2 separate regions of the Homo sapiens genome follow, and region 1 is linked to region 2. Evidence: fine-mapped expression QTL. Tissue or cell type: tibial artery. Region 2 holds a variant in brackets; the other region holds the start of a gene. All regions are shown on one strand. Distances are from middle to middle. Region 1 holds the start of GSDMD (gasdermin D). Region 2 overlaps ZC3H3 (zinc finger CCCH-type containing 3).

Region 1 (4,303 bases), 69 kb before region 2:
CCGGCAGCCTCTCCGTGTGCTCCCCACGGGGACGGGACCCCATGAGGAAAGGTGGACTCGGGGACTCCAAGTCCAGACTCGAGGTGCGGCCCCCTCACCTGGGCCCCCGTGTTCACACCACCCCTTGTCCTCACAGCAGCCTGGGGCTCAGTCCGGTCCTTAGGATCCAGTCCTGGCAGCGGAGGCCCCAGATGACCCCTGCAGCTTCCTTCCTGCAAGCTGGTTCCGGCCACAGCGCTCTTTTGCCTCTGGGACTTTCCTGATGCCCCAAGGTTGTGACCTTCCCAAGAGCAAGGCTGGGACCTGGCACAGTGGCTCACCCCTGTAATCCCAGCACTTTGGGAGGCCGAGGCAGGAGGACTGCTTGAGGCCAGGAGTTCAAGACCACCCTGGCCGAGATAGCAAAACCTCACCTCAAAAAATAATTTAAATAAATAAATAAATAAAAGCAGGGTTGCTTGGGGTAGGTGGGGCCCTGCCCTGCCCTGCCCTCTTCGGGCCCACCTCTCATGGAGCAGAGTCTGCCAGGTGTTAGGGTCCACACTCAGCGAGTACACATTCATTGAGGTGCTGGAGCTGTCAGACACCGCGGCCCCGCCTGCGATCTTTGCCTGTCCTGGGGCTGCCAGCTCCACGCTGCCCTGTATCTGCCCATCCATGGCATCGTAGAAGTGGAAGCTCCTGCCACGCTGCACGTCTAAAGCAAGGCCAGACCTGAGGCTGTGCCCAGCGCCCCGCCTCTCCCCCGCCCCCACCAGCCCTGTCCCAGCCCCAGGGCAGAGGGACCTTTGGAAAGGCCCCGGCCTCTGGAAGAGAGGCCCAGAGCTAGAGGCTGCAGAGCCCAGTGGATGGTTGGCCCCAGCCCGCTCCCCTCTCCCATCCAGCCTCCCTGGGGCTCTGCCTCAGCACCACATCAGGCACCTGGTTCCGCGGCATCCGGCTCCAGGATGTCCTTGATAGACAGGTTGACACACTTATAACGGGGTTTCCAGAACCATGAGCTTGAGGGCTTCCTAACCACCAGGCAGTAGGGCTGGAAGCCAGTGGAGCTCTGCAGGCTGGTCACAGGGATGAACTCCCCACCATGGTCCAGCTCCTGGACCACTCTCCGGACTACCCGCTCAAAGGCCGACCCCATGCTCCTGAGGAGGGGAAATGGGTCAGGCATTGTGCTCTCGGGGCGGGCGGGAGGGAGTGGGAGAAGGGTCAGTACTTGGATGTCTCCCATGATGGGGGACTCCTTCCCTCCAGAACAGCCCTGCCCAGCTCATCCTGGGATGCTCCCACTAGCAGAAAGCTTCTGTCCCCGGCCCTCCCCAACACAGAATTACAGTGTTCTCCCTGTTGTCTACGGTACCATGAGCACCTCCAGCCAGGGACAGTGAGGCCTGACGCCCAGACCTGCTCTAACACAGAGGGCTCTGTCCACTAGAATGGCTGCCTCTGGCTGGGAGGAAACAAGCTGTCACCTCCTGAGCGTGGTGCAGGGACCCACTGCAAAACCCAGCCAGAGTGTCACCAGGGACCCACTGCAAAACCCAGCCAGAGTGTCGCCCCACCCCAGCTGCGTCCTCCAGGGCCTTCTCTGTGCCTGGAGCTCCATGAGCCACCTGTCCAAGGCTGAGGCTTTGGGGGTCAGAGGCCATAGCGGGCCTCCGCTGGGATAGGGGGCACCTGGGCCACTGTGGAGGGGCTGCAGCTGCCCCAGGAAGCCTCTGAGTGCTGGGTCTGCTGAAAGTGGAGGCTGGGCCCAGAAGGCAGCTGGGGGCGGGAACAGCACCGGCCCGGGAACCTGGATGGCGGACCTGGGAGTCAAGCCCAAGCCCAGGTCCAAAGGCCGGGCCCCTGGGCTGGCCAGGGGCAGCCTTTCCCGAAGCCTGGAGCTTCCGCCCCCGTGTGCGGCGCGGGGCCTTCTGGGCGAACGCTGGGGCAGCAGGGCCAGCATCCCCCACCCGGGAGCCAGCGGCCGGCCCCACTCGGGAGCTCCAGCCAGGCCGGGGGAGGGGGCGGGGCGCAGCTCACCGTGACCGTCGGCGCCCCGAGGGTGGCGCGTCTGGCGCGTCTGCTCTCCCTGGGAGCCGTCCGGCGAGCAGGAGCTGGAGGTGCCCAGAGCTAAAAGTGAAACTGCAACCTGACGCAGGGCCCGCCCAGGACGCCCTCCCGGAACCGTCCCGGAGAGCCCGCCCCGGCCCCCTTCCTGCCCCCTCTTCCCGCCAGCCCGCCTGGAGCACCAGCCTCGCGCGTCCGGAGGAACCTTGGCTTGGCGCCCCATCCTGGTAGCCTCAAACTTCATAGCACTTTGTGGTTTTTCTTAAAACTCTGAGCCTGTGCCCGGGCGGATCACCTGAGGTCGGGAGTTCAAGACCAGACTGACCAACATGGTGAAACCCCGTCTCTACTAAAAATACAAAATTAGCCCGGCGTGGTGGCGCATGCCTGTGATCCCAGCTACCTGGGAGGCTGAGGCAAGAGAATCGCTTGAACCTGGGAGGTGTAGGTTGCAGTGAGCCGAGATCATGCCATTGTACTCCAGCCTGGGCGACAGAGTGAGACTCCGTCTCAAAAACAAACAAGCAAACAAACAACTTTGGGCCTGTGCCGAAGGGTCTGGGCAGATCTTCCAAAGATGTACAAAATGTAGAAATTGCCCTCAAGCAAATGCAAAGATGCTCAACACCCTTAGTCATCAAGGAAATGCAAATGGAATCCACAGAGAGATACTGCACACTGACAAAGATGGTCGTATTACTAAAGGTGAATAACCAGCGCGGGGGGCACGTGGAGTCACTGGAACATTTGTGCAATGCTGGTGGGAATGTCAACCCGTGCGGCCCTCTGGAATAAGCCTGGCAGCTCCTCCAAGAGTTACCGTGTGACCCAGCAATTCCACTCCTAGCTCCACCCACAGGAATTGAAAGCAAAGACGCAAACAGATGCCTGTGCACCAAAGTTCACGGCAGCATCCTTCGCCATAGTGGCAGCATCCGTCGTCACAGCGGCATCATCCTTCATCATAGCGGCAGCATCCGTCGTCACAGCGGCAGCATCCTTCGCCACAGCGGCAGCAGCTGTCGTCACAGCGGCATCATCCTTCGCCATAGCGGCAGCATCCTTCGCCAAAGCGGCAGCATCCTTCACCATAGCGGCAGCATCCTTCGCCATAGCGGCAGCATCCTTCGCCATAGCGGCAAGGTGGAAACCCTGTCCATCCACTGAGGCGTGCATAGACTAAACATGGCCAGTCCAGGCACTGGAATCCAGGCCGTAGAACGGCGCCCACGGTCAAAAGGAATGAGACCCTGATGCACTGGGCGACACAGACGGGCGACACAGACTTGGAGACATCATGCTAAGTGAAAAGCCAGGCACACGGAGCGGACGGCGTGATCCTGCTCACGTGATGTGTCCCGAATGGGCACGTCCAGAGGGAAGAAGGGAGATGGCGCTGCCGGTGCCCGGGACGGGGGTTGGGAGCGACGGTTGCTGGTTTGGGGTTTCTTTCTGGGGTGAGGAAGTGTTTTGATATTGGCCGTTGGTGATGTTTGCATACCTCTGAATATGCTAAGACCCACAGAATTGCACACTTTAAATGGATGAATTGTATGGTATGGGAATTACACAATTATGTCTCATTAAAGCAGTTATTTTAAAAATCTAGTGCCCAGTAGCAACACCTAGTCTCGGCACAGGCTCCCTCAGTGCCCTACTGACCTAAGTCATGGTGGGCCCAGGGCCATGGGCCCACCCCTGCACACGGTAGTCCTCCCACCCGGCCCTCCCAGCCGCTCCGCGGTTGTGGATGGGGCTACTTGGGCTTCGGCCCCACTCCTAGGCCTGACCACAGTGGGGACACAGTGGTGCCCTGCGGGTCCCTGCTGGTGCTGTCTCCTGGCTGTTTTGTGTATTTTTTGTTGTTTGTTTTGTTTTGTGTGAGGCAAGATCTCTCTGTCGCCCAGGCTGGAGTGCAGTGGCACAATCACCACTCACTGCAGCCTCGACCTCCTGGGCTCAAGTGATCCCCTCCTGTCAGTCTCCTGAGTAGCTGGGACTACAGGTGCTCAGCACCACACCTGGCAAAGTTTTCGTTTTTGTTTTGAGACTGAGTCTTGCTCTGTCACCAGGATGGAGTGCAGTGGCGTGATCTCAGCTCATTGCAACCTCTGCCTCCCAGGTTCAAGCGATTCTCCTGCCTCAGCCTCCCGAGTAGTTGGGACTACAGGCATGTACCACCACACCCGGCTAATTTTGTGTCTGTGTGTGAGAGACGGAGTGTTGCTCTTTTTTGCCCAGACTGGAGTGCAAT
Region 2 (4,373 bases):
TGGGGTCATACGGGTGTGAGCCTCGCCCAGGCCCGGCTGTGAATGGCTGTCCCTGTCCCTGTTATGGGCAAGCCCTTGGGACAGGATGCAGGAGCTCCCTGGTGAGATGCTGCTGCCACCTTGGCGGAACCGCAGGCCACAGCGTGGTTCCGTGTGGGCCGGCAGTGGCATCGCAGGGACAGGCTGCAGGGAGTGTCTGGTGACAAATCTGGAGGGAGCCTTCCTTCAGTTTGCACAAGGACCTTCGGGGAGGGAGCTCAAGGGCCCCCCGGGGGTTCCTGTGGGATCCGTGGAATTCCCCTCAGGCCGGGGAGGGCGGAGCCCCCTGTGCCTGGGCCCTCCTGCCCCATCTGCCCAGCCGTGGATATGTGTGTGTCTGCCAGTTGGTGCCTGGGCTCCCTGGAGGGAGGGGCAAGCATGGACATTCCTGGAAACTGAAAAACCACCCCTGACAGGAAGAAATAAAATGTCCTTGTCACCCGGCGCTACCTGGGTGCCGCCGTTTTAAATACCACTTTACCTTGGTTTTAGAGGTGGTCGTAAAGTATCATTTACATAGTCAATATTTATTTGTTTATTTATTTTGAGACGGAGTCTTGCTTTGTCACCTAGGCTGGAGTGCAATCTCAGCTCACTGCAGGCTCTGCCTCTTGGGCTCAAGCAATTCTCCCACTTCAGCCTCCGGAGTAGCTGGGATTACAGGCACCTACCACCACTCATGGCTAATTTTTGTATTTTTAGTAGAGACAGGGTTTCACCATGTTGGCCAGGCTGGTTTCAAACTCCTGACCTCAAGTGATCCGCCTGCCTTGGCCTCCCAAAGTGCTGGGATTACAGGCATGAGCCACTGCACCCGGCCATCAGTATCTTATTTAACTTCTCGAATATATCAATCCTCCAGCCAGATCTCACCCCAAAACATGATTAACCTCTCAAGGCTGGGCTGAGTATCTGGCAGATGGACAAGGGTGGCACATCTGCCTACCTTGTCCCAGGGCCCCACTGGGGAGGAGGGTGACAGCAGGTTCTCTGGGCTGGGCCCGGGTGGTCTCTGGGCTGGGCCTGGGTGGTCACTGCAGTTGGCATGTGGACAGTGCCTGACAGAGGACTGAGGCCCCCACAGGGGACAGGAGTGTTCAGGAGAGCTGGGCCTGTTGGGGGTGGGAGTCCTTAGCCTGGCTGCCCCCAACCCTGGCCTCCCTACCTCCTTTCTATTGTATTGCTATGTGGGCCCTCAGAGATGGGACCGTGGGTGAGACTCCTGCAGGGTCCAGGCCCCGGGGGGCCTCCCAGCTGCTGAGCACTGTGCAGCCCCACCCACCTGCTGGGGAGGCTCCCACCTTCCTCATGGCCCCCTTCACCCCCGCCGCCCCTGCCCCATCCCCAGTACCTGCCAGGGCCCTGTGTGTCAGGTGCTTGCTGGGCGTGGTTTAGGAACCACGGGTGTCTAAGGGTGTTTCCCTGGAACCCTGTGGCCTGGAGTGTGGGTGTGGGCTGCAGTTCCAGAGACCCGTGGCTCAGGGACAGGCCCAGGGACCGGCCCAGGGACCACAGTGGGTAGGATGCACCCACCACTTTCCTGACTTTCCTGCAAGTCAGCAAGGGTCCCGCTGCCCCGTCCACTCCCCAGAGTCAGGCGCGGTTTAATTTGCGGTTGGACGTCTGCTAAGATTGCGTCCACTTCCCAAGTCAGCACTTAATTGGCAAGGCGCTTGATTTAACAGCGTGGGAGCCTCCACCGGAAAAATGGCTTGAATAAATCACCGCCTGACGCCAGAAAATAGATATAATCTCAGCATTAACTACATTAATAGTAGCAGGAGCCGAATTAAGAAAGCCATAAAGCATAGGCGGGCGGGCATAAATTATGGCCCAGCTCAGTACCCTCAGTGCTCTGGCTTGCCTGGGGCGGTCCTGGGGCGGGACAGGGGCAAGGCGCCCCCTTGCCTGC[G/C]GAGGCTGCTTCCAGCCAGCTCCTCCCCTGGCCCCTCTCCCCTGGCCAGGGCGGTGGGCGGGGCCAGGCGGTGGTGGGCGGGGCTCCGTGGCCCAGCCGCGGTGGGAGGGCGCATCCCCCCAAAGGTTGGCTGAGGGGCCCCAGCTCCCTCCTTTCCATTGGCTGCTTGTCCTCCAGGACTCCCCCACCCCACCCTACCCAGCTTCTTGGAACCAGGCCCTGGCTGAGCCCTTCCCACCTGGGGCGTCCCCTGCCCAGTGGGTACTAGCAGTCATGGAGAGTGGCAGAGCAAGGATAGGATTCAGTTAGGGCATAGGTACCAGACCCAGCTCCAACCTTTCTCTGGTGTCTGCAGCCTGGAAGGCTCCCTGCAGGCAATGACATTTGGCCAGGTAGACACAAGCTGATCCCCACCCAGGCCCCACCTCACTCCTCTCATTGCTGGTCTTAGGCCCTTCCCAGAGAAGCGCCTTCATCTGGATGAACAGTCCTGGGGGTCAGCGCTGCCACTGGCTTGGGGGACAGAGGGGGCATGACTGCTGGCCCTTCCGGGCCTCGTCAGCGTCAGCAGCCACGGGCAGAAACATGGACAGCGGATCTGAGGAGGGTGCCATCCAGGCTTAACTTTAATTCTTGGTCAAGTTCAACATGGTTTGTGTTCCCTATTCGCTTGTCTCCAGCTGGCTTGTTTCTTATGGATTCATGGAACTCCAAGTGTTCAGGGGGAGTCGCCTTTTTGTCATTTTCCTCGCTTTGAATTTCGTGAGGATGTTTGCAGAAGTTTTTACTTTTCTGTGCACTTAAATCTGCCAGTCTCTTGAGATTTCATGTATTGATGTGCTGAGAACAGCCTTTCCTACCTAAGATGGCATGAGTTCTGGAAGCTTCCCTCTGGCTCTTCCCACTCATGTCTACCCCATGAGCACCTGCTTTTCTGCTCTCTGCCTACCTTGATTGGCTTTGCCTGTTCCTGAACTTCGTGGTGATGGGGCCGTGTAGCGGGTGCTGTTCTGTGTCTGAGCTTCGTGGTGATGGGGCCGTGTAGCGGGTGCTGTTCTGTGTCTGAGCTTCGTGGTGATGGGGTCGTGGAGCGGGTGCTGTTCTGTGTGTGAGCTTCGTGGTGATGGGGCCGTGTAGCGGGTGCTGTTCTGTGTGTGAGCTTCGTGGTGATGGGGCCGTGTAGCGGGTGCTGTTCTGTGTGTGAGCTTCGTGGTGATGGGGCCGTGTAGCGGGTGCTGTTCTGTGTCTGAGCTTCGTGGTGATGGGGCCGTGTAGCGGGTGCTGTTCTGTGTCTGAGCTTCGTGGTGATGGGGCTGTGTAGCGGGTGCTGTTCTGTGTGTGAGCTTCGTGGTGATGGGGTCGTGGAGCGGGTGCTGTTCTGTGTGTGAGCTTCGTGGTGATGGGGTCGTGGAGCGGGTGCTGTTCTGTGTGTGAGCTTCGTGGTGATGGGGCCGTGTAGCGGGTGCTGTTCTGTGTGTGAGCTTCGTGGTGATGGGGCCGTGTAGCGGGTGCTGTTCTGTGTCTGAGCTTCGTGGTGATGGGGCCGTGTAGCGGGTGCTGTTCTGTGTCTGAGCTTCGTGGTGATGGGGCTGTGTAGCGGGTGCTGTTCTGTGTGTGAGCTTCGTGGTGATGGGGTCGTGGAGCGGGTGCTGTTCTGTGTGTGAGCTTCGTGGTGATGGGGCCGTGGAGCGGGTGCTGTTCTGTGTCTGAGCTTCGTGGTGATGGGGCCGTGTAGCGGGTGCTGTTCTGTGTCTGAGCTTCGTGGTGATGGGGCCGTGTAGCGGGTGCTGTTCTGTGTCTGAGCTTCGTGGTGATGGGGCAGTGTAGCGGGTGCTGTTCTGTGTGTGAGCTTCGTGGTGATGGGGTCGTGTAGCGGGTGCTGTTCTGTGTGTGAGCTTCGTGGTGGTGGGGTCGTGTAGCGGGTGCTGTTCTGTGTCTGAGCTTCGTGGTGGTGGGGCCGTGTAGCGGGTGCTGTTCTGTGTGTGAGCTTCGTGGTGATGGGGCCGTGTAGCGGGTGCTGTTCTGTGTGTGAGCTTCGTGGTGATGGGGCCGTGTAGCGGGTGCTGTTCTGTGTCTGAGCTTCGTGGTGGTGGGGCCGTGTAGCGGGTGCTGTTCTGTGTGTGAGCTTCGTGGTGGTGGGGCCGTGTAGCGGGTGCTGTTCTGTGTGTGAGCTTCGTGGTGATGGGGCCGTGTAGCGGGTGCTGTTCTGTGTGTGAGCTTCGTGGTGATGGGGCCGTGTAGCGGGTGCTGTTGTGTGTCTGAGCTTCGTGGTGGTGGGGCCGTGTAGCGGGTGCTGTTCTGTGTGTGAGCTTCGTGGTGGTGGGGCCGTGTAGCGGGTGCTGTTCTGTGTGTGAGCTTCGTGGTGGTGGGGCCGTGTAGCGGGTGCTGTTCTGTGTCTGAGCTTCGTGGTGGTGGGGCCGTG

The links. PIP is the estimated chance that this variant, and not a neighbour inherited with it, causes the effect. A credible set is the group of variants that fine-mapping cannot tell apart.
Region 1: it holds the start of GSDMD, and the variant in region 2 is the best candidate, but not a certain one, in a credible set for the expression of GSDMD in tibial artery (GTEx, PIP 0.56).

The regions. Positions count from the first base shown.
Region 1 is chr8:143,556,171-143,560,473 of GRCh38, reverse strand. It overlaps GSDMD (gasdermin D), which reads right to left and starts at 2,128. Exons shown (of 11, transcript NM_024736.7): 1 at 2,023-2,128; 2 at 922-1,142; 3 at 505-697. The coding sequence starts at 1,138. It overlaps LOC100310756 (a long non-coding RNA gene), which reads left to right and starts at 2,203. Exons shown (of 1, transcript NR_147504.1): 1 at 2,203-3,655. RefSeq lists an enhancer at 1,672-2,313.
Region 2 is chr8:143,487,119-143,491,491 of GRCh38, reverse strand. All of the region lies in intron 4 of ZC3H3 (zinc finger CCCH-type containing 3), which reads left to right. Among named protein-coding and RNA genes, the nearest start is that of SNORD149, 17 kb to the left of the region's middle. RefSeq lists enhancers at 2,638-3,174, 3,175-3,712. The variant G/C (reference allele first, on the strand shown) is at 1,952.